Regions from separate parts of the Homo sapiens genome. Here regions 1, 3 and 4 are each linked to region 2. Evidence: fine-mapped expression QTL. A gene starts in region 2. Each other region holds a variant in brackets. All regions are shown on one strand. Distances are from middle to middle.

Evidence for each region.
Region 1: its variant is fine-mapped to the expression of ZNF333 in breast (GTEx, PIP 0.93).
Region 3: its variant is fine-mapped to the expression of ZNF333 in transverse colon (GTEx, PIP above 0.99).
Region 4: its variant is fine-mapped to the expression of ZNF333 in T cells (GENCORD, PIP 0.95).

The regions. Positions count from the first base shown.
Region 1 is chr19:15,532,194-15,540,335 of GRCh38, forward strand. It overlaps CYP4F22 (cytochrome P450 family 4 subfamily F member 22), which reads left to right. Exons shown (of 14, transcript NM_173483.4): 5 at 5,168-5,221; 6 at 5,342-5,469; 7 at 5,679-5,800. Among named protein-coding and RNA genes, the nearest start is that of CYP4F22, 28 kb to the left of the region's middle. RefSeq lists a silencer at 6,712-6,912. The variant G/C (reference allele first, on the strand shown) is at 4,290.
Region 2 is chr19:14,686,091-14,694,232 of GRCh38, forward strand. ZNF333 (zinc finger protein 333) reads left to right here and starts at 3,958. Exons shown (of 12, transcript NM_032433.4): 1 at 3,958-4,060; 2 at 7,361-7,404. The coding sequence starts at 7,402. RefSeq lists silencers at 3,552-3,601, 3,932-4,301.
Region 3 is chr19:14,652,380-14,660,379 of GRCh38, forward strand. ADGRE3 (adhesion G protein-coupled receptor E3) reads right to left here. Exons shown (of 16, transcript NM_032571.5): 5 at 6,134-6,171; 6 at 2,603-2,786. Among named protein-coding and RNA genes, the nearest start is that of ADGRE3, 18 kb to the right of the region's middle. The variant TGA/T (reference allele first, on the strand shown) is at 4,118.
Region 4 is chr19:15,543,280-15,551,421 of GRCh38, forward strand. It overlaps CYP4F22 (cytochrome P450 family 4 subfamily F member 22), which reads left to right. Exons shown (of 14, transcript NM_173483.4): 9 at 692-758; 10 at 871-1,000; 11 at 4,829-4,962; 12 at 5,859-5,923; 13 at 7,395-7,477; 14 at 8,015-8,142. Among named protein-coding and RNA genes, the nearest start is that of CYP4F22, 39 kb to the left of the region's middle. The variant A/T (reference allele first, on the strand shown) is at 4,723.

The DNA of each region.
Region 1 (8,142 bases), 850 kb after region 2:
TCCTTTCCTTTCTTCTTCCTCCCTCTTCTCCTCCTCCTTCTACTTCTCTCTCTACTCCTCTTTCCCCCTCCTCCCTTCTCTTCTTCTTTCTCTCCTCCTCCTTCTACTTCTTTCTTCTTCTCCTTCTCCTCCTTCTCCTTCTTCTCCTCCCCATCCCCCTCCTCCTCCTCCACCTTCTTCTTTTTCTTCCTCTTCTTTTTAGACAGAGTCTCACTCTGTCACCCAGGCTGGAGTGCAGTGGCATGATCTCAGCTCACTGCAACCTCTGCCTCCCGAGTTCAAGTGATTCTCCTGTCTCAGCCTCCCGAGTAGCTGAGACTACAAGTGTGCACCACCACACCTGGCTAATTTTTGTATTTTTTTTTTTCAGTAGAGACGGGGCTGCACCATATTGGCCAGGCTGGTCTTGAACTCCTGACCTTAAGTGATTCTCCTGCCTTGGCCTCTCAAAGTGCTGGGATTACAGGCGTGAGCTACAGCGCCTGGTCTCTCTTTTTTCTCCTTCCTCCTCCCTTCTCCTCCCCCTCAGAGCATCAGTTTCCTGAGCACCATCCTGCCTGGTTCTGAGACTCCAAACAGACCGAGGAGTAGTGCCCCAGCAGGGGCTGTCATGTAGTAGATGCTTAAGCCTCTTGCCCTCCCCTCATCCAGTGGAGGGAGGGGATATTCTGTGTACCCCATCAGAGAAGCCAGATAGGGAACTCCAGGATGGAAAAAAGGGTGGTGCTGTGAGTCAGCCTGGAGTGAGGCCTCTTGGCCCCAGGGTGCCCCCACCTGGAATTACACAGATCAGGCTCCAGTCACAGACACCACCCTGGATCAGGACCTCCTGGGGCCACACCTGGGAGTGGCTTGCTGTTCTGAGCTTGGAGCTGCACAGCCCTTGAGCCTGGAGGAGGGCCCAGCTCCTGTTGGAGCTTCAGTTTCCCCATCATCTTATGGGCCTTTGGACTAGGAAATTTTAATGAGAGAAAGTAGATAAACATGCTTTATAGAGAACATGATGATATATAGACATATAATTGTAGCTTGCTTTTATATCATCTTTTTAAAATGGAGGTGAAATTCATGTAACATATAATTAACCATTTACAAGTGAACAATCAGTGGTATTTAGTGTATTCACCATGTTGGGCAACCACCAGCATTTTCCAGTTTCAAAATTTTTAGTCACCTCATAAAAAAACTCTGTACCCATTGAGTAATCACTTCCCATTTCCCTCCTCCTCCCATCCGCTGGTAACCTCGAATCTGCTTTCTGTCTCTATGTATTTGCCTATTCTGGGTACATCATAGAAAGAGAACCACATAAAATGTGATCTTTTTGTGTCTGTTTTCTTTTACTCAGCATAATGTTTTTGAAGTTCATTCACGTTGTAGTAGGAATCAGTTTCATTCTTTTTTTTTTTTTTTTTTTTTTGAGACAGGGTCTTACCCTGTCACCCAGAGGCTGGAGTGCAGTGGTGTAGCCATAACTCATTACAGCCTTGAAATCCTGGGCTCGAGTGATTCTCCTCCTGCCTCAGCCTCCCGAGTAGCTGGAACTGCAGGCACGCACCACCATGCCCAGCTAATTTTTATTTTTATTTTTGTAGAGATGGGGTCTTGCTATGTTGTCCAGGTTGGTCATTAGGGCTGAATTCATTTCACTGTATGGATTTTTTTTTGTTTACCCATTCACCTTTTGGATGTTGTGAATCATGCTACTATGAACATATGTGTTCAAGTTTTGGGGTGGACATATGTTTTCATTTCTCTCTTGGGTAGATACCTAGGAGTAGAATTGCCAAGTCATATGGAATTCTGTACTTAACTTTTTAAGGAGCCACCTTGCTGTTTTCCACAGAGGGTGTGCATTAATTTTCTACTAACAGGAAACACAACTATTTATCTCACAAGTTCTTGATGCCAATAAATAATCATTTTAACCATAGTAATAAAAATAGCCAACAGTTGGTCAATTATTCATTTACCTACGCACGTATTTAATGAGCATCTACCATGTGCCAGGAACACAAGAGCTTGTTGAGTCTTATAGGGATGCCATGAGGCAAGATTGTTCTATTTTCTCCTTTGGCAGTGGTAACATGTCCAGGCTTACATATCTAGTTAGTGGCAGGGCTGGGATTTGAACTCAGACCTGGCTGGCCCAGAACCCAAGCTCTCAAACATAGTGATATGCAGCTTTCTGAGCATGAGTTTCTCCATGCTGGCACCATGTGGGGGTATTTCGTACACCGTCTCATCCATGGTAGGCATTACCATCTCTCCCTCTTTTTTTTTTTCTTTTTAAAAAACATTTTTGTAGAGACAGAGTCTTGCTGTGTTGCCCAGGCTGGTCTTGAACTTCTGGGCTCAAGTGATCCTCCTGCCTCTGCCTCCCAAAGTGCTAGGACTGCAGGTGTGAATCATTGCACCTGGCCTACCATCTCCTTTTTGCTGGAGGGGAAAACTGGTGAGGAGCGTGGACACAGACTTTCCTGGCATTGTGGTCAGAGTTGGAGTGGAAAAGGAACCTGAGGATGAGAGAACAATGGTTCAGCTGAGAAGGGGGTTTGGAGAAGGCTTCCTGGAGTAGGTGTCAGTGAAGCTGGGCCCCGAAGGATGCCTAGGAGCTTGCCAGAGAAGGAGTCCCAGATGGAAGGTCCTGCCAGTGCCTTGATGCAGATGTGTGAAAATTCCAGGGGAATTCAGGTGATTTAGGGTGGCTGGAGTGAAGGTGATATGTTGGGGGGAATAGGAAATGAGACTGACAGTTAAGCAGGAACTGGACAGCAAAGTGAATGAACTTGTACTTTATCCTGGGAGTGATAGGGAGCCACGGGAAGTATTTGAACAAGACAGCTATTGACCAGATCCTGGTGTCAGAAAGATCCCTGTGGAGCCTATCTTGGAGTCCAGAGTGCAGAGAGGAGAGGAGTGACTAGACTCCTGCTTTCCTCTTCAATGCTGCCTCCTCCAGGAAGCCTGCCCTGACTTCCAACAGCCCTTTTTCTGAGCCTTCCTTAGCACCTAGCACACTTTCTACCTTCTTGGTAATTGCATGGTGTGTCTCTGCTTCCCTTTCCTGCCCCACTCAGGAGCTCCTCCAGGGAGGGCATAGAGCTGAGCCATCTGTGGGTCCCCAGCATCACCCAGCTTGGGTTGGGCACAGAAAGGCAGCATAAGAGGTGTGATGAATGGGGGGATGAGTGGGCGGATGATTGTGTAGGCAATTGGCCAATTCCTAGGGATTGTGTCGGTGTAGGTGGCTGAGTCGCATTCAGGTAAAAGTGATATCACTCGAATTTCAGATACTTCCTTCCTGGGCCTCTGCCCATTCAGCCCCAAATCTGTTCAGTATATAGAAGGAGGATCCATCCATTCATCCATCCACTCATTCATTCATTCATCCATCCACCTTCCACCTATCCACTCATTCATCCATCCATCCACTCATCCATCCATCCACCATCCACCCATCCATCCATTCATCCATCCATCCATCCACCCACCCACCATCTATCCATCTGCTATTCATCCATCCACTTATTTATCCATCCATGTACTCATCTGTCCCTCTACTCATCCATCCACCCATTTATTCTTTCATTCATCCATCCTTGGATTGACTTATTTATTCATTTAATAAAAATTTATCTAGCACAACATATCAGTAATCAACACGAACCCTCCTGTTAAGGGGCTTGTAACTAAGTGGATACAATCCAGAGTGACTGCTGGGTCAGGGGTGGGGAGAAGCATTCAAGTTCTCATACAGGATGAGGGAAGAGTGTTTGGGGCAGAGAGAACAGCTGGTGGAAAGTCTCAGAGAAGAGAGAGCACGTGGTCTTTTTAAGGAGCTGAGAAAAGTTCTGTGGTGTGGCCGGGCATGGTGGCTTATGCCTGTAGTCCCAGCACTTTGGGAGGCTGAACTTGGAGGATCACTTGAGCTCAGGAGTTCAAGACCAGCCTGGGCAATATGGCGATACCCTGTCCATACACAAAATTAAAAAATTAGCCAGGCATGGTGGCGTATGCCTGTAGTCCCAGCTACTCGGGAGGCTGAGGTGGGAGGATCGCTTGAATCCAGGAATTGGAGGCAGCAGTGAGCTATGATCTCACCACACACCCCAGCCTGGGTGACAGAGTGAGACCCCATCTCAAAAAAACAAAAAACAAAAAGTTATGTGGTGTTAGTTCTGTGACGTCGAATAGGGGGTGGAAGACAGAGGTGTCTTGAGAGAGATTTGGACAAAGGCAAATGATTCAGGGCTTTGAAAATGGGCTGGTATGTGAGGGTGATGGGT[G/C]TGTGAGCAGGAAGGGGCGTGGTCAGATCTGATAGTCAGATGAGATTCTCCTGGGGCCATTCATGAGGGACACACTGGAGAGGGTGAGGCTGGAGGCTGGGAGCACAGGAGGTGTGATTCAGATGGCCTGAGCTGGCAGAAAATAAGGGGGTGGATTAGGGGAAGACTCAGGTGAAGAAGTCCATTCTGGATAGACAGCTCAACCTGGTCAAAGGTTCAGAGGTGATCCACAGCAGGCGATGAGAATAGGGTTATCTGGTGTATGTTGAAGGATGAGGTGGTGGGAGAGGCATACAGGGGCCAGATGGAATTGGGTTTCAATGCCAGGCTGAGCCTGAACTTTTTACAAGTGCAATGGGGAGCCATGGGAGGTGTCTGAGCAGGGGAGGCTCATGTTCAGATCAGTGTTTTATAAGGATTTTTTCTCGGGTAGGTGTGGAGGACGGACTGGGTGAATACAGTGGGAGGTTGGAGCCCAGTGAGGAGGACTAAGGAAGTCATAAGCAAAGGTCAAGGGTTGGAACTCTGTTTTGAGGCCAGGCACGATGGCTCGTGCTTGTAATCCCAGCACTTTGGGAGGCTGAGGTGGGTGGATCACTTGAGGTTAGGAGTTCGAGACCAGCCTGGCCAACATGGTGAAACTCTGTCTCTGCTAAAAATACAAACAAATTAGCCGGGCATGGTGGCGGACACCTGTAATCCCAGCTACTCAGGAGGCAGAGGCAGGAAAACTGCTTGAACCTGGGAGGCGGAGGTTGCAGTGAGTGGAGATCGCACCACTGCACTCCAGCCTGGATGACAGAGCAAGACTCCGTAAAAAAAAACAAAAAACCAAAAAACTCTGTTTTGAGTCACCATTTTCCCTTTGCCCTCCACAGCTGCCATCGCCCCCAAGGATGACCTCTTCTATGGCTTCCTAAAACCTTGGCTAGGTGAGTGCCCAGTGGGTAGGCTGGGGCTGGGGCTTTAGAGAAGAGAGGGAAGAGCATGGGGTTCCTTGGAAGGTTTCAGAGTAACAGGAGAGGTCCCTAACCTCAGTCTTCTGGGCCCAGGGGATGGGCTGCTGCTCAGCAAAGGTGACAAGTGGAGCCGGCACCGTCGCCTGCTGACACCCGCCTTCCACTTTGACATCCTGAAGCCTTACATGAAGATCTTCAACCAGAGCGCTGACATTATGCATGTGAGTCCTAAGGCTTTGAGGGAAGAGGGTGTCTTGGGAGTGAGGCTGGTCCAGGCTCCAACTCATGCATGGGCAAGCCATGTGATGTCAGGAGCCCTCACTGACTTTATCTATAAAATGAGCTTGTAGTGAAAACGCAGTCGGGTCCTTGTTAGGCTGACTCCCTCTCTGTGGTTTCCATGCACAGTCACCATGTATCTCTCTTCCAGGCTAAATGGCGGCATCTGGCAGAGGGCTCAGCGGTCTCCCTTGATATGTTTGAGCATATCAGCCTCATGACCCTGGACAGTCTTCAGAAATGTGTCTTCAGCTACAACAGCAACTGCCAAGAGTGAGTGTGACCCTTCTTGGGAAGATGGAGCCAGCTGCTCTAGGAGCAAGATGGTGGCAGGAGAAAGGGAACTCCCAGGCATTAGACAACTCTGGCCTATGGGAGCTCTGCCACGGATGGGCCATGTGCTTCCGGGAAACTGACCATCTCTCTGAGCTTCACTTTTTTTTTTAATCAAAAAAATGGGCATCATAATTCCTTCCCCATAGTCATTGTGTGAGAATTAAATGAGATAATGTGAATCAATGGCTTGGTATAAAGTAGGTGCTTAGTAAATGTTAGTATTTTTTCATTCCACTAGGAAGAGTATGTGGTCTTTGGACAGTGTCCTCCCCACTTTCTGAGGCTCAGTTTCCTTGTTTGTAAAAAAAGGATGACAATCTCTTACTTTCTGAGAGATGCTTTAAGGATAAAATGATGCAGCACTGCCCTGGCACATAGTTGATGCTCAGAGAATATTTGTTGAGTAAATGAATCAAATAACCAATGCCTTGCTTCATTAATTCATTCATTCATCAAATATTCATTGTGCACCTACTACGTGCCTGGCACCATGATATTGCTGCTGAGAACAGGGTGGTGAACAACAGACAGTCACAGTTCTGTGAAGTTTATAGTCTAAGTGGGGACATAAGGAATAAGGGAGATAATTAATGCAAAACTTGCAACACATAGTAGGTCCTCAGTAACAAGCTAATGACTTCGTTACTCTAGGCATTATAGGGGCACGTTCCAGTTGGATAAGGCAGAGATTGTCTTAGAAATTAAATAATTAATTCATCCAAGAAATATTTACTGAGTGCCTAGTAAGTGCCAACCCTGAACTAGGTGCTGGGAACACCATATTCAACAAGAAAGACAAGATGTTGCTTTTCTAGAGCTTCCATTTTAGTAGGAAGACAGGTAATAACCATGAACAAGTAAACAAACAAGAAAACGACAGACTGCAATAAGTGCATGAAAACAAGCCCACTTCAGGACTGAGGACAGCTCCCTTCAAGCCTGCTTCACCTGTTAGTTTTTAAAAAATAATGGCTTTGTTGAGACACAATTCACATACTATACCATTTACTCATTTAAAGAATACACCTGAACTGCTTTTAGTATATTCAGAGTTGTGCAACCATTACTATAATCAATTTTAGAATATTTTCATCAATCCTCCCCCACCCCAAGAAACTTCATACACTTTAGCAACCCGTGCACTTCCCTTTCTCCTTCAAGTCTAGGCAATCACTAATCTATTTTCTATCTCTATAGATTTGCCTGTTATGGATATTTCACACGGATGGAATCATACAGACTTTTGTGTCTGGCTTGTTTCACCCAGCATAATGTTTTAAAGGCTCATCCATATTGTGGCATGTATCAGTTATGTATTTCTTTTCATTGATGAATAATGTTCCATTTACCACATAATACCACATTTTGTTTATCCAGTCACCCATCGATGGACACTGTTTCCACTTTTCGACCTTTATGAATAATGCTGCTATTAACATTCATGCACAAAGTTTTGTGTGAACATACATTTTTAATTCTTTTGGCTATATACCTAGGAGCAGAATTGCTGGGTCATACGGTAATTCCATTTTAAACATTTTGAGGAACTGCTAAACTTTATTTCAGTGGGTTTCAACATGGTATGAAGTGGTTGTACCATTTTGCTCTCCCAACCAGTGATGTATGAGAGCTCCAGTTTTTCCACATACTCACTAACACTTGCTTTTTTTTGTTGTTGTTGTTTTGTTTGCTTTTTAGAGATAGGATATTGCTCTGTTGCTCAGGCTGGAGTGCAGCCCAACACTTGTTATTATAAGTTTTGATTTTAGTCACCTTAGTGGGGTGAAGTAGTATCTCATTGTGGTTTTGATTTGCATTTCTCTGGTGACCAGTGCTGTTAAGTATCTTTTCACATTCTCATTGGAAATTTCTGTCTTCTTTGGAGAAATGCCTATTCATATCCATTGCCCATTTTAAAATAAGTTTTAAGAATTCTTTATTTATTTTAGGTACCAATCCCTTATCAGATAGACAATTTGCAAATATTTTCTCCCATGCTGAGGAGTGTAACCATTTAGTTTTAGTGATGCTACAATGACTATGCCTATGTTGAAAGTCTTTATCCCTCTTTGGGCCTGTTCAAAAATATACCCGAGACTGGGTGTGGTGGCTCAGACCTGTAACCCAGCACTTTGGGAGGCCAAGGCTGGAGGATCACTTGAGCTCACGAGTTCAAGGCTGCAGTGAGCTATGATTGTGCCACTGTACTGCAGCCTAGGTGACAGAGCAAGACCCTATCTAAAAAAATAAATAAATGAATTTAAAAATAGAGTTAATAT
Region 2 (8,142 bases):
CAGTTCTGTGTCTCATACTCCAGAGCTCCCTATGAGATTAGGTTGAAGCTTGACTCCAGCTGAGCCCACATCTTTGTTCAACTCCTTCCTTTCCTTCCTACCCTGCTTTCCTTACTCCCTCTCTCCCAAGAGCACCCCAGCAAATCATGAGGACCTACCCTCCTCCCAGGGATTGCGACCTAACCAAATTCCTCCCTTATTTGGTTATGTCATCAACACAAAAGAAGAAATAATTCAAGTTTCCTAACACTTTCTGGTTTTATCCTGAGATGAGATTTAAAAATATAATGCTTGATTTACAGTAAGACACAAATAAGATCCCCATTATCAATATTACTTTATTGATGATGATGATAATAATGATGATTGAGTCCTATTTCAGAGTGCTTAATTTCTTTTTGAAATTGAGATAGAGTCTTTCTATATTGCCCAGGCTGGTCTTGCACTTCTGGCCTCAAGTGATCCTCCTGCCTTGGCCTCCCAAAGCACTGGGATTACAGGTGTGAGCCACCGCGCCCAGCTCAGAGGGCTTAGTCTTTACATTATAGTGCCATCTTCTGGTAAGATTAAAGAAAAAGAAATCCAAAGTAGCTTCAAATGCTGGGCTTTAAGAAGCTGGGTTGAAGTATGGATGAAGGTCTAAATTTTCCGGGTATGAGGAGTTAAGGCAAATCCTACAGAGATATTAACTTGTTCTTTTTTACATCACCTTAAATCTATTATTGTATCTTTATTATTCTGGGACATTCAGGCCCAAAGATACTCATTAAGTCAGTAAGCTAAATTTAGTGACAAGTGCATGAGAATTAGAGTTAGGAAGCCTGATCATGATATTTATTCACTCATGCATTTGTGAACCCATCCATCCATCCGACAAACGTTTAAGATATGTGGTCTCTGTGCTCGGTGATTTCATGTCAGGTTGATTCATTTTACTCAGTGTTTACTTTCTCACATTTAAAATGGGGTTAACAATGGAAAACAGCGTGGCGATTCCTCAAAGACCTAAAAACAGAAATACTATTTGGCCCAGCAATCTCGTTACTGAGTATCTACCCAAAGAAATATAAATCATTCTATCATAAAGACACATGCGCATGTAAGTTCGTTGCAGCATTACTCACAATAGCAAAGATGCGGAACTAACCTAAATGCCCATCAATAGCAGGCGATATAAAGAAAATGTACATGCACACCATAGAACACTATGCAGATGTAAAAAAGAATCAGCTCATGTTATTTGCAGGGACATGGATGCACTGGAGGCCATTATCCTTAGCAAACTAACACAGGAACAGCAGACCAAATACTGGATGTTCTCACTTCTTTTTTTTTGAAACGGAGTCTAGCTCTATTGCCCAGGCTGGATTGCAATGGTGCGATCTCGGCTCACTGCAACATCTGCTTCCCAGGTTCAAGTGATTCTCCTGCATCACCCTCCCGGGTAGCTGGGATTACAGGCGCCTGCCATCATGCCCGGCTAATTTTTGTATTTTTAATAGAGACGGGGTTTCACCATGTTGGCCAGGCTGGTCTTGAACTCCTGACCTCAGGTGATCCACCTGCCTCAGCCTCCCAAAGTGCTGGGATTACAGGCGTGAGCCACCATGCTTGGCCACTGACTCCTTTCTTACTCCTGGCTTTGTTGAGTTATAGTTGACAAATAAAAATTGTATATATTTAAGGTGTACAACTTGATGTTTTGATATACATACAGTGAAATAATGAAGCAATTAGCACATCCATCGCCTCACATATTTGCTTTTTTTTTTTTGGTGGTAAGAACACGTAAGACCTACCCTCTTAGCACATTTCAAGTACATAATATGTTCCTGTTAACTACAGTCACCATGCTGTACATTAGATCTCCAAAACTTATTTATCTGAAATAACTGAACCTTTGTACATTTTGTTTTTTAAATGATACATTTCTTTTATTTTTATTTTTAGAGACAGTGTCTTGCTATGTGGCCCAGGCTGGTCATCTGGAACTCCTGGACTCAAGCGATCCTCCTGCCTTGGCCTCCCAAAGTGTGCTGTGATTACATGCATGAGCCACCCCGCCCGGCCCAACTTCTTTGTAAGAACATTTAGCTTAAAACACAGATAAATTGTACTGCATAAAGGTATTTTCTTTCTTTATATCCTTATTCTATAAGCTATTTTTCATTTTTTTTTTTGAGATGGAGTTTTGCTCTTGTTGCACAGGCTGGAGTGCAATGGCAAGACCTTGGGTCACTGCACCCTCCACCTCCTGGGTTCAAGCAATTCTCCTGCCTCAGCCTCCCGAATAGCTGGGATTACAGGCGCATGCCACCATGCCCAGCTAATTTTTGTATTACTAGTAGAGACTGGGGGTTTCATCATGTTGGCCAGGCTGGTCTCGAACTCCTGACCTCAAGTGATCCACCAGCGTCGGCCTCCAAAGTCTTGGGATTGCAGGCGTAAGCCACCGCGCCCGGTCTTTTCATATTTTTAAAACCTTTTTAAATGTGAGTAATGTGTTGCACTGCAACATTGTGACAGTTACAACATCACTAGGTGATAAGAAATTTTCAGCTCCATTATAACCTTATGGGATCACAACTGTGTATGTGTTTCGTGGTTGACCAAAACCTTGTTATGTGGTGCATGACTGCACATGTGCTTGATATATAAAGAATACCAGGGAACTAGTGACAGTGGTTGTTTCAGGGGAGGAAAATTTAGGAATAGAGTGAGCCTCCCGTTTGAACTTTTCCCATAGGTATGTACTATGTATACTACATAATAAATAGTTTTTAAAAAGTCAGATCTATGTCTTAGATTCACACATCTTATTTTTAGTGAGAAGGGCAAGCTGTAGAAGAAACAAAAATACATCGTCCTATTTTTAGAATAAAGACAGTTAGTTGACCCGTGAACACCAAGGGTTTGAACTGTGGCTATCCCCTTATAGGTAGATTTTTTTCTACCTTTGTCCTCCTTGGGACAGCAAGACAAACCCCTCCCTTTCCTCAGCCTACTCAGGGTGAAGCTGACGATGAAGACGTTTATTTATGATCTTTACGATCACTTCCACGTAACGAAGAGTAAATATATTTTCTCTTCTTCATGATTTTCTTAATAACACTTTCTTTTCTCTGAGCTTAGTTTATTTTAAGAATATGGCATATAATATACAAAATATGTGTTAACTAACTTTATGTTATTGGTAAAGCTTCTGGTTAACAGTAGTCTATTAGTAGGTAGGTTTTGGGGGAGTCAAAAGAAGTGAATTTTCCACTGCACAGGGTGGCGCCCCAACTCCCGTTGCCTAAGGGTCAGCCGTATAAAAATATACAAAAACAATCTTAAGTATGGGTATATTTTTGTAGGGGATTGGATTAAGCCCATGGATAAAGGTGGAAGGGGTTGGGGAAAAGGAAGGAGAAAAGGGTAAGTTAAATATTGAGCATCCCTAAAGAGACCCGGGGAGGGGTCGGGTGTGCCCCTCTCAACCCTTGAAGCCCAGGTCCCCTCATCCCGCCTTCCGAATGCAAGTTCAGCTCCCATTCCCACCCCAAGCACAAGCCCCGCCCCATTTTTGCCCCTGAGGCGCACGACCCGCCCCTACTACCACCCTGCAAACCAAGGCCCCGCCCACTCCGCCATTGGGGTGCAAGCCCCGCCCATCAGCCATCGGAGGGCAAGCCACACTCCACCCCGCCCCCGCGCACAGGCCCCGCCCCACTTTTGCCCCGGGACCTAAGCCCCACCCCTATCCCTGTCTCTCGGACATAGGCTCCGCCCCCAGCACCACCCTCCATGCTCTGTGGGACCCCACTCCAGAGCCTAACCTCATCCCCCGGGTAAGAATACTAGAATTTCTCCTTGGAGGCTAAAGAAGACGTTAGTTTCTCTGCCGCCGCCTAAGGCTACCCTGGCCACAACAGCCTGAGCCACAGCCACTTCCGTTCCCGGCGGCCCCGAGACCGGAAGCGGAAGTGCGCGCGGCGGCGGCCGACGGCGGCTGAGCTGTGCTGCGCGGCGCGGCGCGGTGCGGCACGGCACGGTGGGAGTGTCTCCGGCTGGCTTGCAGGTGTGGCCCGGCCCCTCGGGAGGGCGGGGAGGGCGGGGAGGGCTCGGCTGGCGCGGGGAGGGACTGGAGGGCCTAGAACAGCTCCGCCTGTGTGAGGGGTTTCCTCCCTGCGATCAGCCGGTGGCCGGCGTGAGGCCCACACAGTCAGGGCCTCGCATCTGGGCGCCCGCCGCCCGGTCTCTCGCTCTCAGGTACCCCCCGTCCGGGCAGACAGGGCTGTCATCCTGTCAAAAGGGAAATCCCAAACAGTCCAGGTCCCACAGCTCAGAAATGTGGTGACACCGGCCCCAGCTCTCACCTGTCCTTCCCAATTTTTAGGGAAAGTGCATAAAGACGGCCCTACCTTGCCTACAGTATGCAAGATAACTGCGAATTAGTAATTCACGTTTTATTTGATATGATACTTAATATTATCTAGCTTTGCAACTGGAAAGTGAGGTCTGGGTCCACATGTGCAAACTGGTTTAATTGATTGGCCAAATTTACTTAAAAAATTGAATGCATCCTCCATTAAGGAATGAATTAGATGACGAGAGATTTCTTTTGGAGACTGACAATTTGAAGTCTTTTAGCTTAATATCTGTTAGCTTGGCTTTGCATCTCTTCCTTTTCCATAACTTTTTCTTTCTTCTTTTTTTTCTTTCTCATAAGAAAGCTTTTGGCCAGGCTTGGTGGCTCACTCCTATAATCCCAGCACTTTGGGAGGCCGAGGCGGGTGGATCACCTGAGGTCAGGAGTTTGAGACCAGCCTGGCCAACATGGTGAAACCCTGTCTTTACTAAAAATACACAAATTAGCCGAGCGTAGTGGTGGGCGCCTGTAATCCCAACTACTCGGGAGGCTGAGGCAGGAGAATCGCTTGAACCCCAGAGGCGGAGGTTGCAGTGAGCTGAGATTGTGCCACTGCACTCCAGCCTGGGTGACAGAGCAAGACTCCATCTCAAAAACAAAAACAACAACAAAAGGAGGAGTTCTTAATTTTTTTTGTTTTTGTTTTTCTTTATTTTCTATGTTTGAGACGACTTTTACTTCTGCTGTGGGCATCAAGTTTCTCACTGTTAGGTTAAGAAAAGCCGTTTCTCAGTTATTTCACAAATATTATTATCAAGAAAACCTAAGACTGTTATTCAGATCTTTTCAAGTTGGCTCCAGTCCTTCCCCCAAGCATGTGAATCACAGAGCTTCAAAACTAATGGAACTTCAGGGAAAAGACGATATAAACTTTGTTAATACTGGAAATTCAAATTGAGTTGGCCATAAGTGGGATGTCTTTTTTAATAATGGGGTTAAAGCTCGTGTCTACTGAGAAATCAGGAAAAAATTAACTCCAGAGGAAAATCATGCATCAGATTTCAGTTTTACGAGTGAGGTGTTTGTTTCCACAAAGAATATATGCGCTTGCCTTGCCTTTTTAAAAAGAATTAATATTGTTTCTTAAAGGTACCTGAAACTTGTGTGATTATGTCTTATGAAAGACAGGCACTTTAAGTTATTCTTATATTTGATTTTTATGGTGTCATATTGTCTTTTTTTTTTTTTTTTTTGAGACAGAGTCTCACTTCATCACCCAGGCTGGAGTGCAGTGGCACAATCTCGGCTCACTGCAGCTTCTGCCTCCTGGGTTCAAGCAATTCTCGTGCCTCAGCTTCCCAGGCAGCTGTGATTATAGGCGCCCGCCACCATGCCCGGCTAATTTTTGTATTTTTAGTAGAGACGGGGTTTCACCATGTTGGCCAGGCTGGTCTGGAACTCCTGACCTCAGGTGATCCACCCGCCTCGGCCTCCCAAAGTGCTGGGATTATAGGCGTGAGCAACCATACCTGGCCTCATACTGTGTTTTGTGTGTGCGTGGGCATATTCCTTCTTAGGCTAGCTATACTGAGTCATTCTTGAGGAGTGTTGATTATTTGGCATATTTTCACTGGGGTGCCCTCAATGAATTGGACCCTGTACATGGGGAAACAGTGGGACTGAAATAGTTACAGTGCTTGCCCCTGTGGAGGCTTTATTCTAGCTAATAATATTGGTAAATTAATAGTGCCAAAGGCAATATGAGAACGTGGAACAGGAGAACTTGGGGAGGATGTCAGGAAACACATCTGAAAAGGAACAAATGTTTGAACCTTCAAGATGAGTTGTACGTAGCTAAACAAGGGGTCTAGCTGTGGAGTGGGGTAGCGGAGGAAACTTGAGAGAACATTCCAGATGTACAGTCTTTCAGGCAGTACGAAGCCTGCTGTGTTCCAGGAGCTGAGAACAGGTAGAGAAAGCTAAAGTAGAGAAAATAAAGTACTGAATGGATGAGCCAGGTGAGAGAGGGAGGCAGGTCCCTGAAGATCATGGTTAGCATTGGATCTTCTTTTTATTTATTTTTTTTCTTTCAGACAGAGTCTTGCTCTGTCACCCAGGCTGGAGTGCAGTGTGGGATCTGGGCTCACTGCAGCCTCCACCTCCCGGGTTCCAGCGATTTTCTGGCCTCAGCTTCCTGAGTAGCTGGGATTACAGGTGTGTGCCACCATGCCCAGCTAATTTTTGTATTTTAAGTAGAGATGGGGTTTCACCATGTTGGCCAGGCTGGTCTTGAACTCCTGACCCCAAGTGATCCACCTGCCTCGGCCTTCCAAAGTGCTGGGATTATAGGCATGAGCCACCGTGCTTGACCTGGACCTTATTCTTTTTTTTTTTTTCTTGACATGGAGTCTTAGTCTGTTGCCCAGGCTGCAATGCCGTGGCACGATCTCAGTTCACTGTAACCTCCGCCTCCTGGGTTCAAGCAACTCTACTGCCTCAGCCTCCCTCCCGAGCAGCTGGGATTACAGGCGTTTGCCACCATGCCCAGCTAATTTTTGTATTTTTAGTAGAGATGGGGTTTCACCATATTGGCCAGGCTGGTTTCAAATTCCTGACCTCAAGTGATCCACCCACCTTGGCCTCCAGCCTGAGCAACAGAGTGAGACTCAAAAAAAAAGGTTTACATCACAGTTGGAGAGAGAGAGGCCAAAATCGTTTAAGAAATAAATATCAAATCACACCTTCATATGGGCAGTGGAGGAAAAGTAGAAGATCTTAGAAGTATTTTGAGGGAAGCTAGAAGTTAAAATGTTCCTTTGATGACATGGGAAGAGTCAGTAGCAGTCACTAGAGGCTGTTGTTTGAAAGGTGCCTTGGGGGCCAACATGTTGCTTATGGAGATAAATGTCCTGTAAGGGTTTTGATTGTGACCACTCTGCTGGAGATCCCCCAAAATGCTCTGCTTCCGTCCTCACCCCTTCTTTTACCTCAGTGTCTCCTTTATTGCAGGGAGAACACCGACTGAGACCTCAAACCCTGGCTCCAGTGTCATGGTGAGGAAACTGGGGGCTCCTGTGGCTGAAGGGGTGGATATGTAGGATAACTATGTCCTCTGGGCCCTGTCTTCTCTCTCGCCACTTCCGTCCCCAACTGAGGAAGAAAGGGAAGGGTGAGTGAGGAGCATCCTCATCCCTGCCCTAGGGGACCTAGGGACTTCCTTCTGTGCCTGACCTCTAGAGGTGGCATGGAAGAAGAGTCCCACAGCAGACCCTGGGGCTCTGAGCGGAGCTCCTCCAGGGCCATCCTTGTCATCCCTGGTGAGACCTATTGAAAACACATGTGGCCATAGAAATATAAATTCAGCTTAAATTAATTAAGATTCAGTACATTTAGCCGGGCATGGTTGTGTGTGCCTGGAATCGCAGCTACTTGGGAGGTTGAGGTGGGAGGATAGCTTGAGCCCAGGAGATTGAGGCTGCATTGAGCTAGGATTGTGACCCTGCACTCCAGCCTAAGCTACAGAGTAAAACCTTGTCTCTAAAAAAAAAAAAAAAAAAAAAAAAATTAAAAAGTTTAAGCGCTCAGTTTCTCAGTCGCCCCAGTCACATTGCCCAAGTGCTCAACAGCCACATGTGCTGGTAGCCCCTTTCTGGAAAGCACAGGCATGGAACATTCCCATCATCAGAGAGTGATGTCTGTTGGACAGCACTGCTCTGAAGAATTCTGCAATTAAAAGGATTCTCAGATGAGGCCGGGCGTGGTGGCTCATGCCTGTAATCCCAGCACTTTGG
Region 3 (8,000 bases), 34 kb before region 2:
ATTGGGTGATGGGTGCATCAGGGATTTTATTCTCCTATTTCCTTTTGTGCATATTAAAAGGTTAAAAAAAAAAAGAAGCAAGCAACAAAACAGCACATCAAGAATGACACTATTTTATGGCTGGGTGCAGTGGCTCATGCCTGAATTCCCAGCACTTTTGCAGGCTGAGGCCAGTTGATTGCTTGAGGTCAGGAGTTCAAGACCAGCCTGGCCAACATGGTGAAATCCCATTCTACTAATACACAAAAATTAGCTGGTCATGGTGGCAGGCACCTTTAATCCCAGCTACTAGGAAGGCTGAGGCAGGAGAATTGCTTGAACCCAGGAGGCAGAGGTTGCAGTGACCTAGATCATGCCACTGCATTCCAGCCTGGGCAATAGAATGAGACTCCATCTCAAAAAAAAAAAAAGAAAAAAAAAAAAAGAATGACATTAATGACATTCTAGAAACTACTACTGGTTTGTCTAATATTGACTCTCAGTTTTTGAAAAGTTTACAAGTATTTACTCTAATTATGTATTAATGTTTTTGGCCTACTGTTTCATTCATTTAGTACGTTTTAATGAATAGAAATTCTTGAGCTCAGTGTAAGTGAATTTATTGTTATTATTATTATTTTTGAGATGGAGTCTTGCTCTTTTGCCCAGGCTGGAGTGCAGTGGCTTGCTCTCAGCTAACTGCAACCTCTGTCCCCCGGGTTCAAGCGATTCTCCTTCCTCAGCCTCACAAGTAGCTGGGATTACAGGCATGCACCACCACGCCTGGCTAATTTTTTTTAGTAGAAACAGGGTTTCACCATGTTGGCCAGGCTGATCTCGAACTCCTGACCTCAAGTGATCCGCCTGCCTTAGCCTCCAAAAGTGCTAGGATTACAGGATGAGCCACCTCATCCTGCCCACAATGTTAATTTCATCATCCATTATATTATCGCTTGTTACTCTTTGTCATTTTTATCAAACCTCAATTTGACTTGTTTTTATATTATTTAATATTTTCTACATTAAACTATGTGTTTCCTGTAAAAAAGAATGACACTATTTTGACAATATTTCATAATATTAAAGAGTGGAAAGATAGAATAATCATAATTATAGCAATTACTACCGTAGTTTTTCTTCTTTCTTAAAAGTTTGAGTCGTTTAGCTTCTGAGGGATCCTAGTCCTAGGTGCATTACATGCACTTTCATTATCTCTATTAAAATTTTTTTTTGAGACAGGCTCTCACTCTGTTGTCCAGGCTGGAGTGCAGTGGTGCAATCTCAGCTCACTGCAGCCTCGAACTCCTGGGCTCAAGCGATCCTCCCACCTCAGCCTCCTAAGTAGCTGGGACCTCATTTGCACACCACCATGTCCAGCTAATATTATCCTCATTTTATTGACAGGAGAATGAAGCCCAATGAGGTGAGGGCACTGGTCTCAGATCAAACAGTTAGGACGTGGCAAAATCAGGAGAGATGAGATTTACTTGCAATCTGGAAAATGGTTTAATTTTGAACCAAAGTATCCAGATTCCAGTTTTCCAAGAAGAATAGGCACTGACTTTTTCAAAGCCTGCTGTGTGTGTGTTTTTTTTTTTTTTTTTTTTAATTTAAGATGGAGTCTTGCTCTGTCACCCAGGCTGGAGTGCAGTGATGTGATCTCGGCTCACTGCAACCTCTGCCTCCCCAGTTCAAGTGATTCTCCCACCTCAGCCTCTGGAGTAGCTGGGATTACAGTCATGAGCTACCACGCCCCGCTAATTTCTGTATTTTTAGTAAAGATTAAGTTTCACCATGTTGCCCAGGCTGATCTCAAACTACTGGCCTCAAGTGATCCACCCACCTTGGCCTCCCAAAGTGCTGGGATTATAGGTGTAAGCCACCATGCCCAGCCCAAAACCTGTTTTTTTTTTTTTTTTAATGAGACAGGTTCTTGTTCTGTCATCCAGGTTGGAGTGGCAATGGCATGATCATAGTTCACTGCACCCTCAAACTCCTGGACTCAAGCCATCCTCTCCCTCAGCCTCCCAAGTAGCTGAGACCACAGGTACAAGCCACTGCACCTGGCAAATTTTAAATTTTTTTTAAAGAGATGGGGGTCTTGCTATGTTGCCCAGGCCAGTCTTGAGCTCCTGGGCTGAATTAACCCTCCCGCCTCAGCCTCCCAAAGTGCTGGGAATACAGTCGTGAGCCATCATGCCTGGTCCTCAAACTACATTTAAGTGAAAATTCCAGACCTGGGATTGGAAACTATTGGCAATCTTCTGAATAAACAACTTTATTGAGGTATAATTGATGTCTAACCAACTGCACATATTAAAGTGTACAATCTGGTGAGTTTTGTTGGGTGCACACACCTCTGAAATCAACACCACAATCAAGGCAGGAAGATTTCCATCACCCCTAATAGTTTCCCCAGATTTTCTCATGCCTCTGCCACCCCTCCCTCCTGCCCCTCCCTGTCACTCTAGATAAGTTTGCGTTTTCTAGAATTTATATAAATTTTTGTAATTTACATAAAGGGACTCATGTGGTGTATTCAATTTTTTTTTTCTAATTGCCTAACCCAGATCCCAGCTGCTAACCAGTCCCCAGGGTGTATCAGTCCTCATTATTGTCTTACCTACACTATCGTTTTGGATTTTCAGGACTTTTTGTTCTGGATCTTTCAAGGCAGTTTCTAGAACTTTCGATTCCACATCCCGGAGAATAGTGGTAGCTGTGGATGAGATTTCTTGTCTCCCTTCTGTTCTCCATAAAGTCTGATTGGTGAGAAGTGACTCAAATTTGTCCACAATCTTTTGCAGCTTTGAAGACATAAAGAATTTTCATTTTTTAAAAATGTAATCTGGTAAGTCCCATATCCAAAAGAACAGTAGAAAGCATGAGAAAGCAGGCTCTGGAGCTGGAGGAACCACGTTCAAATCCTGGCACTTCATCATGTCCCAGCTTTGTGACCTTGGGCAAGTCACTCAATCACTCTGTGCCCCACGACAGGAAAAGGAACTCAAAGGGTTTTTCTGGAGGATTAAATGAGTTAACAGATGCTCTTCTTTTAGGACAGTGTCTGTATCTGGTAAAAGCTATGTAAGGGTGAGTCACTATTATTATTTTTGAGACAGAGTATTGCTCTGTCGCCCAGGCTAGAGTGCAGTGGTGGGATCTTGGCTCACTGCAACCTCCAGCTCCTGGGTTCAAGTGATTCTCATGCTTCAGTCTCCTGAGTAGCTGGGATTACAGGTGCACACCGCCATGCTTGCTTAATTTTTTTAATTTTTTTTTTTGTATAGACAGGGTCTTGCTATGTTGCCCAGGCTGGTCTGGAACTCCTGGGCTCAAACGATTCTCCTGCCTTGGCCTTCCAAAGTGATGGGATTATAGGAGTGAGCCACCGTGCCTGATTGGGTTAGTTATTATTAACGTTTTTTGCCAACAAGGTAGTGATAAGTTTGTTAGAAATAGACCAGTGGTTCTCAACGGGGGGGTGATTCTGCTACTCCCTCCACAGGGCACATGTGGCGATGGCTGGAGACATTTTCGGTTGTCACTGTCGCAACAAGGGAGTGGTTGCCACTATTGAAGCAGCGTCACTGTCTGGGGTAAATACCCAGAGTTTGTCATCTTGCGCCAAGATGAAGGACATGGACACACACGAGGAGTGAGTTTAGGAGTGGAGGTTTAATAGGCAAAAGAAAAAGAAAAGAGGGCAGGGTGCGGTGGCTCATGCCTGTAATCCCAGAACTTTGGAAGGCCGAGGGGGGTGGATCATCTGAGGTCAGGAGTTCAAGACCAGTCTGACCAACATGGTGAAACCCCATCTCTACTGAAAATACAAAATTAGCCGGGCATGGTGGCGCGTGCCTGTAATCCCAGCTAGTTGGGATGCTGAGGCAGGAGAATCGCTTGAACCTGGAAGGCAGAGGAGGCAGATGTTGTAGTGAGCCGAGATCACATCACTGCACTCCAGCCTGGGTGACAGAGTGAGACTCCATCTCAAAAAAAAAAAAAAAAGAAAAGAAAAAAAAAAAAGAAAGTAGAACAGCTCTCTCCCTTGCGAGAGAGAGGGATGCCCGAAAGAAAGCAAAATCCTGCCCACCGACTAGATTTTATATTCAGGCACTAGATTTTATAGTCAGGC[TGA/T]GGAGGCGGTGTCTGAATTATGTAGGGCCCACAGATTGGTTGGGCCAGGTGCGACATTTACTTACTGCTCGGGGAAGGCTGGTTGCCCTACCCACTTGGCCAGTACCATCTTGTCTGCTCCTTACTGTACACGTGACTGGCAAAGAGAAGGGAAGATGGAGCTGCCATTTTGATCATGTCTAGTCCCAGGCAGCCTTTTCCTATTGGCACAGCTGCTGGCATTGACCCATAAGCTTCCAGCTTGCTTGTCTATGTCCGCAGCTTGATTTTACAGGCTGCTCTTTGTTAGAAAAGAAAATTTGGGGCTGCTCTTCATTAAAAGGAAAACCTCACTGAGGACTTCCGTACCCTCACCATCTGCCTAAGTAATTTCTTCTTAACTCCTATATCATTGTGTATTTATTTATTTATTTTTGAGATGGAGTCTTACTCTGTTGCCCAGGCTGGAGTGCAGTGACGTGATCTCAGCTCACTGCAACCTCTGCCTCCTGGGTTCAAGTGATTCTCCTGCTTCAGCCTCCTGAGTAGCTGGGATTACAGGCATGCGCCCCCATGCCCGGCTAATTTTTGTGTTTTTTGTAGACATGGGGGTTTCATCATGTTGGCCAGGCTGGTCTTGAACTTCTGACCTCGGGTGATCCACCCACCTCCCAAAGTGCTGGGATTACAGGCATTAGCCGCCATGCCCGGCCTGATTACTTGATTCTTTATTTGTTCATTACTTCAGTGATCATTCCTTGAACTCCTAATTTGGGGTTGGTCTTATTCCCTTCCTCAAAAAGCTCACAGTCTAGGGATTGATTACATGATGTAATCACATATTTATATAAATGCCGTCAGTTGGCCGGAGACAATAATGGATACCATTGGATACTTGGATGTCTTTTGCAGCAGTGCAGCAGGCCTTAATATACTCTCTCTTGGCCTGTCTTTCTTGGTCTGGGATAGATTCCTGTCTTTAGATGGCAACACACACACGCTCATACACACACACTCACACACTGTCATATGTATGTACGTACATGCACACTGTGTGTGTCTATCTATACCTATATCTATATATATATATAAGTAGATACAGATACAGAGCCCTCTTGGTATACGCATGGCATTGGTTCCAGGATCGTCCATATATGCTCAAATCCAATCCATGCATACTCAAGACCCATGGAACTCACTCATGAAAAGTCAGTCCTTCCTCTTTGTGAGTTTTGCATCCTGCCTATATATACATATATATATATATATTTTTTTGTTTGTTTGTTTGTTTTGTTTTGTTTTTTGAGACGGAGTCTTGCTCTGTCACCCAGGCTGGAGTGCAGTGGCAACATCTCCACTCACCGCAACCTCCGCCTCCTGGATTCAAGTGATTCTCCTGCCTCAGCCTCTGGGGTTGCTGGGATTGCAGGCATGTGCCATCATACCTGGCTAATTTTTGTATTTTTTAGTAGAGATGAAGTTTCACCATGTTGGCCAGGCTGGTCTCGAACTCCTGACCTCAAGTAACATGCCTACCTCGGCCTCCCAAAGTGCTGGGATTACAGGCGTGAGCCACCACGCCAAGCCCGGCAATACTGTAGTTTTGATTCACATTTGGTTGAAAAATGTCCTCGTGTAAGTGGATCCCCGCAGTTCAAATGTGTGTTGTTCAACTGTATATATAGTGATATATCTATAGTGAGCTGGATAATGATACATATATAGTGGTATACCTAATGGTATATCTGTATCTATCTATCTATAGATATATGTATACATACCACAATTATGCATAATATATAATTGTATATAATATATGAATATGTACTATTGTGTAGTAATATGATATTATATGGTAATAATATATTATGTATTTATATATAACATATTCTTTGTCCTAAATAATACATTATATATGTATATATAATATATATTTTGCCCTAAATCCATCCCCATTTGCTCACTTTGGGCTTTGTAAATATTTGTTACTGATGTTTGTTACCTGGGAAGGGTCTGGGGATCAGCCTCCACTCACCTCTTTCCTGCCCTCGGTTGTCTTTGAGGAGGTGGTGTCTGCAAAAGACATCATGATGGAGTTACTATTGGAACTGAGAGTGACCAGGCAGAGGGGTGGGCAGGTGGGGTAAGTAATGGGGTGAGCAACTTTGCACCTAGAAGGTAAAAGCCTGAATTCATAGTCTTTATCTGCTGTTTGTTGATTTTTAAAAAATTTTAAATTTTATTTAAAAAATTTTTTATTTTTTATTTTTATTTTGAGACAGAGTCTCACTCTGTTGCCCAGGCTGGAGTGCAATGGTGCGACCTAGGCTCACTGCAACCTTCACCTCCTGGGTTCAAGTGATTCTCCTGCCTCAGCCTCCTGAGTAGCTGGGATTACAGGCACGCACCTCCAGGCATGGCTAATTTTTGTATTTTTAGTAGAGATGGGGTTTCACCACGTTGGCCAGGCTGATCTCAAACTCTTGACCTCATGATCCGCCTGCCTCGGCCTCCCAAAGGGCTGGGATTACAGGCATGAGCCATCGCACCTGGCTTTTTTTTTCCCTTTTTTTTTTTAGATAGGGTCTCATTCTGCTGCCTAGGCTGGAGTGCAGTGGCACAATCTTGGCTCACTGCAATCTCAATGTCCTGGGCTCAAGCAATCCTCCACCTCAGTCCCCCAAGTAGCTGGGACTGTAGGTGTGTACCACCAGACCTGGCTAAATTTTTTTTTTTTGTATTTTTTGTAGAGATGGGGTTTCGCCATGTTGGCCAGGCTGATCTCAAATTCCTGACCTCAGGCAATCCACCCGCCTTGGCCTCCTAAAATGCAAGGATTACAGGCGCGAGCCACCGTGCCTGGCCTCCAAATTCTTTTATTCCATCTTGACTGGAAATTAGAACTGAAATGTCCGAGAAAACAGAAAATTAGAAGCCTCTTGTGTTTAAAGTCAGCCTGGCTGGGAATGATAACCGAAACAGAAGCATCAGTGTCTGGTCATCAGCTGTTAATGAAGACTTTTGTGTTGGTTTCTGTGCTTAGTGAGGACATCTCTGCTTTAGAAATTTGAGGAAGGGTGCACCTGTAGTCCCAGCTGCTTGGGAGGCTGAGGCAGGAGGATCATATGAGCCTAGGCATTCGAGACCAGCCTGGCCAACATGGCAAAACCCTGTCTCTACTAAAAATACAAAAATTAGCTGGGCATGTTGGCGGGTGCCTGTAATCCCAGCTACTCGGGAGGCTGAGGCAGGAGAATCTCTTGAACCTAGGAGGCAAAGGTTGCAGTGAGCTGAAATGACACCACTGCACTCCAGCCTGGGAGACAGAGCGAGACTCTGCCTCTGAAAAAAAAAAAAAAAAAAAAAAAAAAGACAAGGAAAGTCTAGCAAATGTTTACATATCTTTTATCATCATGCTGAGGTTAAATCTGTACTTATTCTAAATTTTGGTTTTCAGCTCAGTCTATTTGCTTAAAAGCACAAACAGCTTTGTTTTAATACTGAACATTTTATCTTAAGAGTTCAAGAACTTTGACTTACAACCCTGAGTCTAGAATATGTTTGTTATAGGAAACCGTATTTATTGTAGAAAACTGCCCTTTTGAACCAAAGCTGCACACTTTATCATTGGGTGGGGGTGTCTGTTGCTTAGAGCTGCCAGCCTTGGTAATAACGAACCCCAAATGGGCTCAGTCTTTATAAAAGGACGGTGCAGACCTCTTAACATTAGGAAAACAACCAAAGGCATTTTCCTTTTTTGTAAAATAAGACAAGTTTAAGAGATTAACATCAGAACCCAGGTAGAATCACAGTCTGCTTCTACACTGTCAATAGAGGTGCGCATTGCTTAGTAAAAGACAGATTTATGGCTGAGTGCTGTGGCTTATGCCTATAATCCCAGC
Region 4 (8,142 bases), 860 kb after region 2:
GCCTTGATCTCCTGGGCTTAATCCTCCTGCCTCAGCTTCACCAGTAGCTGGGACTACAGGCATGCATCACCACACCTGGCTGATTTTTTTTTTGTAGAAATGGGGTCTTACCATGTTGCCCAGGCTGGTCTTGAACGCCTAGGCTCAAGTGATCCTCCCACCTTAGCTGCCCAAAGTGTTGGGATTATAGGTGTGAGCCACCATGCTGGGCACTTTCCATCTTTATTAGACAAGTTGCATACTTCCATCTTCCTGGACTAGTTCCCCCCACAGCTTGGCTTAAGAGAGAGAGGGGAGCCAGGCGTGGTAGCTCATGTCTGTAATCCCAGCACTTTGGGAGGATGAGGCAGGTAGATCACTTGAGGCCACGAGTTCGAGACCGGCCTGGCCAATATGGCAAAATTGCATCTCTACTAAAAATACAAAAATTAGCTTGGAGTGGTGGCATGTGCCTGTAATCCCAGCTATTCAGGAGGCTGAGGCACGAGAATCACTTGAACCTGACAGTCGGAGGCTGCAGTTAGCCGAGATTGTGCCACCGCACTCCAGCCTGGGTGATAGAGCGAGACTCCATCTCAGAAAAAAAAAAAAAAAAAAAGATGGGGGCGGGGAGATATCTGAGTTTTGAGGAGCCCCTAGGATGCGGAGGGTGGGATGAAGTGGGCTGAGCACCCTCTACTGCCCATTCCAGGATGAAGATGGAAAGGAACTGTCAGACGAGGATATCCGAGCCGAAGCAGACACCTTCATGTTTGAGGGTGAGGATGTGGGGTGAGGCTGGAGGAGGGCAGGAAGGGACATCATTGTCTGTAGACAGCATCTCTGCTTTCTTCAGGCAGCCTCCATTCAGATACCCTCATCTCCCTGCAGGTCACGACACAACATCCAGTGGGATCTCTTGGATGCTGTTCAATTTGGCAAAGTATCCGGAATACCAGGAGAAATGCCGAGAAGAGATTCAGGAAGTCATGAAAGGCCGGGAGCTGGAGGAGCTGGAGTGGTGAGTGTGGGGTCAGGGGAATGGAGGGGGCAGGTTGAGGCCAGAGCCTTGGGTGTAAGCCTCTGCTCTCCCACTTACTGATTGTGTGACCTCAGACAAGCCACTTTAGCTTCCTGAATTGCAATTTCTTCAGCTACAAAATGGGGGTGGTTATAGTGCCTATGCCCACCTCATAATGCAGAAGTTCTCAAAGTGTCCTAGTCAGCAATTATTGCAATGATGCTGCATAATGAACAGCTCCCAAACTTAGTGGTTTACAGCAAGCATTTGTTTCTTGCTTTTGTATGCACACATTTCTTGCTCTTGTCTGCTCATTACTCTAATTGCTGTTGGACTTGGCTGAGTGGAGTGGAGTTGCTTCAAAACTAAGAGCTGGGTTCAGATCTGCTTCATATACTCCCTTTCTGTTCTCTTTGGACCAGAGGCTACCCTGGGTCGTATTCTTCTCAAGGCAGATTCCAGAAGCACAAAAAGCCATGAAATTTAAAAGCTTTGCTTGGGCCGGGTGGGGTGGCTCACGCCTGTAATCCCAGCATTTTGGGAGGCCGAGGTGGGTGGATCACCTGAGATCAGGAGTTCGAGATCAACCTGGCCAACATGGTGAAACCCCATCTCTACTAAAAATACAAAAATTAGCCAGGTACGGTCATGGGTGCCTGTAATCCCCCCTACTCGGGAGGCTGAGACAGGAGAATCACTTGAACCTGGGAGGTGGAGTTTGCAGTGAGCTGAGATTGCACCACTGCACTCCAGCCTGGGCTACAAGAGTGAAACTCTGTCCCCACCCCCCCACAAAAAAAGATAAAATAAGTAAATAAATAAAATAAAAAAAAAAAACAAAAGCTGTGCTTGCACTAGAAGATTGCATTGGCTAAAACAAGTCACGTGACCAAGCCCAGCATGAATGGGGCAGGACATATACTCCACTCACCTGAGCAGAAGGCACTGAAGAATCATATGACAAAGGGTACAGGTATATAATTCTAATTCAGGGAGGAAGTGGAGAATCAGAACACATACCCAGTCTCTACCAGATTCATGCTATGTAGAGCTGATTCTGGGTGATGAAAAGAAAACACAGCATTAGGCTGGGCGTGGTGGCTCATGCCTGTAATTCCAGCACTTTGGGAGGCCGAGGGGGGTGGATTGCTTGAGCTGAGGTGTTTGAGACCAGCCTGGGCAACATGACGAAACCCTGTCTCTACAAAAAAATACAAAAATTAGCTGGGTGGGGTGGCGCATGCCTATAGTCCCAGCTACTTGGGAGGCTGAGGTGGGAGGACTGCTTGAACCCAGGAGGTGGAGGCTGTGGTGAGTCAAGATTACGCCACTGCACTCCAGCCTGGGTGACAGAGTGAGACCCTGTCTCAAAAAAAAAAAAAAAAAAAAAAAGAAAAGAAAAGAAAAGAAAAGAAGAAAAACACAGCCGCAACATTAAATAGCATCAACTCACACAGTGAGGAGGTTCCTTTCGGTTCTATTTCAACCTTTTGCCTTATGGCCTCAGGGGGACATGCTCAGTGGGGTGCTACTGTGTCCTGAACACTTTGCTAATCTTCCTTTTAAACAAGTGGAGAAGATGTCTCAGGTTGAGAGAGTTGGGTGGGAGTTGGTGTGTAGACACAATTTAATAACACACTACTGCTTTCACAGTGGTGTTTGTATGGATGAATACCTTTATGCCAGGGATGCTGTTTGCCCTTTATAGCAACATGAAGTTTATTTTTTTTTAAGACACAGGCTGGAGTGCAGTGGCATAATCATAGCTCACTGCAGCCTCAAACTCCTGGGCTCAGGCAATCTTCCTGCCTCAGCCTCCTGAGTAGGTGGGACTATAGGAGTGTGCCACCACAACTGGCTAATTTTTAACATTTTTTTAAGAGATGGGGACTTGCTGTGTTGCCCAGGCTGCTCTCAAATCCCTGAGTGCAAGCAGTCCTCTTACTTTGGCCTCCCAAAGTGCTGGGATTATAGGTGTGAGCCACTGTGCCCAGCCATAAAGTTTCTTTGAAAGAGAACCTGGGCCAGGTGCAGTGGCTCATGCCTGTAATCCCAGCACTTTGGGAGGCTAAGGCGGGTGGATCACTTGAGGCCAGAAATTCAAGACCAACCTGGGCAACATGGTGAAACCCTGTCTCTACTAAAAATACAAAAATTAGCTGGGCGTATTGGTGTGTGCCTGTAATCCCAGCTGCTTGAGAAGCTGAGGCGTGAGAATTGCTTGAACCTGGGAAGCAGAGGTTGCAGTGAGCTGAGATTGTGCCACTGCACTCCTGCCTGGATGAAACAGCAAGACGCCATCAAAAAAGAAAGAGAACCTGCTAATTTAAAGAAACTAATCTAATCTAGAACATGAACCAAGAGTTATCATTAGCCCAATTTTGGGCCCTAAAGTCCAAGGGAAAAAATATTAAGTAAATGATATTATAAGGAGATAATGCACTTTTCTTTTCTTTCTTTTTTCTTTTTTTCTTTCTTTCTTTTTTTGAGATAGGCTCTCACACTGTGGCCCAGGCTGGAGTACAGTGGCATGATCATAGCTCACTACAGCCTCCTGAGTAGCTGGGACCACAGGTGTGTGCCATCATGCCCAGCTAATTTTTTAACTTTTGGTAGAGATGGGGTCTCTCTTTGTTGCCCAGGCTGGTCACGAACTCCTGGGCTCAAGTTATCCACTTGCTTCGGCCTCCCAAAGTGCTGGGATTACAGGTATGAGCCACCATGCCTGGCCTGCACCAGTTTTTTTTTTTTTTTTTTTTTTAAGACAAGAGTCTCACTCTGTCACCCAGGCTAGAGTGTAGTGGTGCAATCTCATCTCACTGCAACCTCCGCCTTCCGGGTTCAAGCAATTCTCTTGCCTCGGCCTCCCAAGTAGCTGAGACTACAGGTGCACGCCACCACACCCAGCTAATTTTTGTGTTTTTTAGTAAAGATGGGGTTTTGCTATGTTGGCCAGACTGATCTTGAACTCCTGACCTCAGACGATCGCCCATCTCAGCCTCTGCAAGTGCTGGGATTACAGGCGAGAGCCACCACACCTGTCCTGCAGCAGTTTTTTAAGTACAGAAATGGACCATATAAACTGGCATATTGCTGTTGCCGTGAGTCCCCTTGGCTGTCCTGGCACCTCGCCTAGGTGCCCCTGGACCTCCACATAATTCATCAATTAAAGGCTTAATGCTGGGCCCAGCAGAGGGCCCAGTGCTAGTGCTGTTCTGAGCGGTTGGTGCTCAGATACTTTGCATCCTAAGTATTAGTACTGGCCGGGCACTGTGGCTCACGTTTGTAATCCCAGCACTTTGGGAGGCCGAGGTGGGTGGATTGCCTGAGGTCAGGCGTTTGAGACCAGCCTGGCCAACATGGAGAAACCCTGTCTCTACTAAAAATACAAAAATTAGCCGGGTGTGGGTGCGCATGCCTGTAATCCCAGCTACTTGGGAGGCTGAGGCAAGAAAATTGCTTGAACCTGCAAGGCTGAGGTTGCAGTGACCCGAGATGCGCCACTATGTTCTAGCCTGGGCAACAAGAGCGAAACTCGGTCTTAAAAAAAAAAAAGAAAGAAAAAGGAAAAGAAAAAACAAAAAAACCACTAAATATTAGTACTTCCCACCTGTGCATGAGACAACTGCAAATGGCAGAAATTGGGGCAAGTCTAAAATCCTGGACTGGTTTCTTGCCCAGCTGCCCCTGAGAGAGAGAGAGAGAGAGAGAGAGAGGGAGAG[A/T]GTGTGTGTGTGTGTGTGTGTGTGTGTGTGTGTGTGTGTGTGTGTGTGTTTTGGGGAGGTGGTGCCATGGTGGCTCGGCCTCTAGTTATATCTCCATTCTCCCCAGGGACGATCTGACTCAGCTGCCCTTTACAACTATGTGCATTAAGGAGAGCCTGCGCCAGTACCCACCTGTCACTCTTGTCTCTCGCCAATGCACGGAGGACATCAAGCTCCCAGATGGGCGCATCATCCCCAAAGGTGCCTACCATGTTCCGCCTGCTGCTGGTGCACTGCCTCCAATGATGTAGCTGCTCTATTGTCCACAGGGGCCTGGCTATGCCTGCCCCAGGTGCACTATCCCTGCAGATGGGATAGCTCTCTGTGTGCCTGTTGCTTCTGGGGTGTTGGAGAAAACCCAGTTGTGTGTGCAGGGAGATAGAGCCGGGTGAGTCCAGGTGGAAAGGAAGGAGGCAGTGTCGCAGGGATGGGCCTGTGAGGGTGCAGTTGGGGAGGGTCAGTTTCATTCAGTTGCCAGTTACTCCCTGGAGACCAAGCCCTGCCTTGGTTGATACAGGGGACCCTGGCTCAGGTTTTGAGTATTGCCCTTTCTGGGGGAGATACAGCAGGGTGCAGACATTCCCAGGCGTATGGAATCAGGAATGGGCTAAAGGGAGAGACAGGGGCTGGAGTAGCTCCAATATGGAGAGGAATGCAGGGAGGGCTGCCTGGAGGAGGGAATGTGGGAGGTGAGGCTTGGAGTGTGGAAGTGAAAGAGTGAGCATGTTTATGGAGTAGAGCCTCAGGATGCAGATTTTGAAAGGCCTTGAGTGCCAGGTGATGGCGCTTGAACTCAATCCTGGGGGCAGCAGGGAGCCAAGGTAGGTGTTTGAGCTGAAGAGGAGCAATGTCAGATCTGCGAGTAAGAAAGATCCCTATGTGGCCAGCTTGGCAGCCAGAAAGAAGATGATAGGTTCCTCTTAGGGAAAGGTGGGAAGAGTGGATGGGGCAGCAGAATTTTTTAGAGAAGGATGGACAGAAGGTGGTGGCAGATGGCTCATGGGAACATCATGGCTCTAGGGAGACCCAAGTTGGGGGATGTTTCTGGAGGAGGCCCTGGCTCCCCTTGGCCCCACTGATCCCATCTTTCCCCACAGGAATCATCTGCTTGGTCAGCATCTATGGAACCCACCACAACCCCACAGTGTGGCCTGACTCCAAGGTGAGTGCCTGCCCCACTCCTCCCTGCCCTCAGGTCCTCCCCTCCCCTGCGCCCCAGGGAGCCAGCGAGCAGGGCTGGTTGCAGGGCCTGAGTGCGCACACCCCTCCCCACTCCGCATTTAGCCATTTATTCACCCACTGATTGTTAATTCATTAGGGCAGAAAATATTTATTGAGCACCTACTGTGTGCCAGAGTGTGTGCTGGGCTCTGAAAATAGAGGATGATACTGTCTTTGCCTTTACAGGGCTCACAGTGAAGTTTTGGGGAAGACAATAAGCAAATAAATAAGATTTTGGGTATTGATACATGCACAAAAGAAAGAAAAACTGGGCCAGTTCCGGTTTACAGGTGCAGTGGCTCACACTTGTAATCCCAGCACTTTGAGAGGCTAAGGTGGGAGAATCGCTTGGGCCCAGGAGTTTGAGACCAGCCTGGGCAACACAGCGAGACCCCCCATCTCTACCAAAAAGGAAAAAGTTGGCCCAATGTGGTGGCTTGTGTCTGTAATCCCAGTGCTTTGGGAGACCAAGATGGGAAGATTGTTTGAGGCCAGAAGTTCCAGCTCAGCCCAGCCTGGGCAACACAGTGAGACCCCATTTCTAAAAAAAAAAAAAGTTAGCCAGCCATGGTGATGCACATCTGCAGTGCCAGCCACTCGGGAGGCTGAGGCAGGAGGATCGCTTGGGCCCAGCAGTTTGAGGCTGCAATGAGCTATGGTTATTTATTTATTTATTTATTTGAGACTGGGTCTTGCTCTGTTGCCCAAGCTGGAGCGTGTGCAGTGGTGCGATCTTGGCTCACTGCAACTTCTACCTCCTGGGTTCAAGAGATTCTCCTGCCTCAGCTTTCTGAGTAGTTGGGATTACAGGTGTGTGCCACCATGCCTGGCTAATTTTTTTGTATTTTTAGTAGAGATGGGGTTTCACCATGTTGGCCAGGCTGGTCTTGAACTCCTGAGCTCAGATGATCCATCTGCCTTGGCCTCCCAAAGTGCTGGGATTACAAGCGTGAGCCACCGCGCCCAGCCTGCAATGAGCTATGATCGCGCTTCTGCACTCCAGCCTGAGTGAGACTCTGACTCTAACAAACAAACAAACAAACAAAGACAGACAAACAAACAAAAAAAAAGAAAAACAGGTGGAGGGGGCACTTTAGCTCGAGTGGTTATGAAAGGCCTTGCCGAGGAGATGTTTGAGCTGAGAACTTAGGGGATGAAGGATCAGGGAGAAGCCTGTTCTAGGCAGAGGAAACAGCAAGTGCAAAGGCCCTGAGGTGGAATCTCACTGGTGCGTGTGAACAACAGAAGGAGGCAGGTGTGGCTGCATTGCAGGAAGTGCAAGGTGGAATGGAAGAGGTGGCCCTGGGGTGCTCCCCATCCATCTTTACTGACCCCCAGAGGCTCAGGGAAGGGGGCCAGGCTGGGATGTCTGGGGCAGCCCCCAGACTCATCTCCAGGCTGTTCCTCCCTAGGTGTACAACCCCTACCGCTTTGACCCGGACAACCCACAGCAGCGCTCTCCACTGGCCTATGTGCCCTTCTCTGCAGGACCCAGGTAACCCCTCTATTTCCCCTAGTCCAAGCCAGCTGTGTAGGAACAGAGGCAGGGAAAGATCAGGAATGTGCCTCTCAGGAGCAGAGATCAGATGGCACCCAGGCGTCCTTTCTGAAGACCCAGCACCCTCTCCCCAATGCGCCAGGAGGCCCCCAAATCAGACTCTGCAATAGCATCCTGGGTATTGAGCACCAACGGTGTGTCAGGCCCTGAGTTCTGGGCTCCCACGCTCCCATTGGCTCTATGATGCCTTTGTCCCCGTTTTTACAGATGAAGGAACTGAGACTCAGAGGGGGCGCTGTGTATCCAGGACACACAGCTAGTAAGAGGCTGTACTGGGATTCAGACACTCAACCCCAAGGTCACATTAATTGAGCGATCCGTGGGGTCTCACTTTAACCCTCACCCAGCGTGGGGTTTCACTTTAACCCTCAGCCAGCCCAGGATGCTTGCTTCATTTTCAAAGGAGGCATGTGACCCCCGGGGACCAGTGCTCACACAGAAGCTGGGCCTGAGCCCTGTCCCCTCTTCCTCCAGGAATTGCATCGGACAGAGCTTCGCCATGGCCGAGTTGCGCGTGGTTGTGGCACTAACACTGCTACGTTTCCGCCTGAGCGTGGACCGAACGCGCAAGGTGCGGCGGAAGCCGGAGCTCATACTGCGCA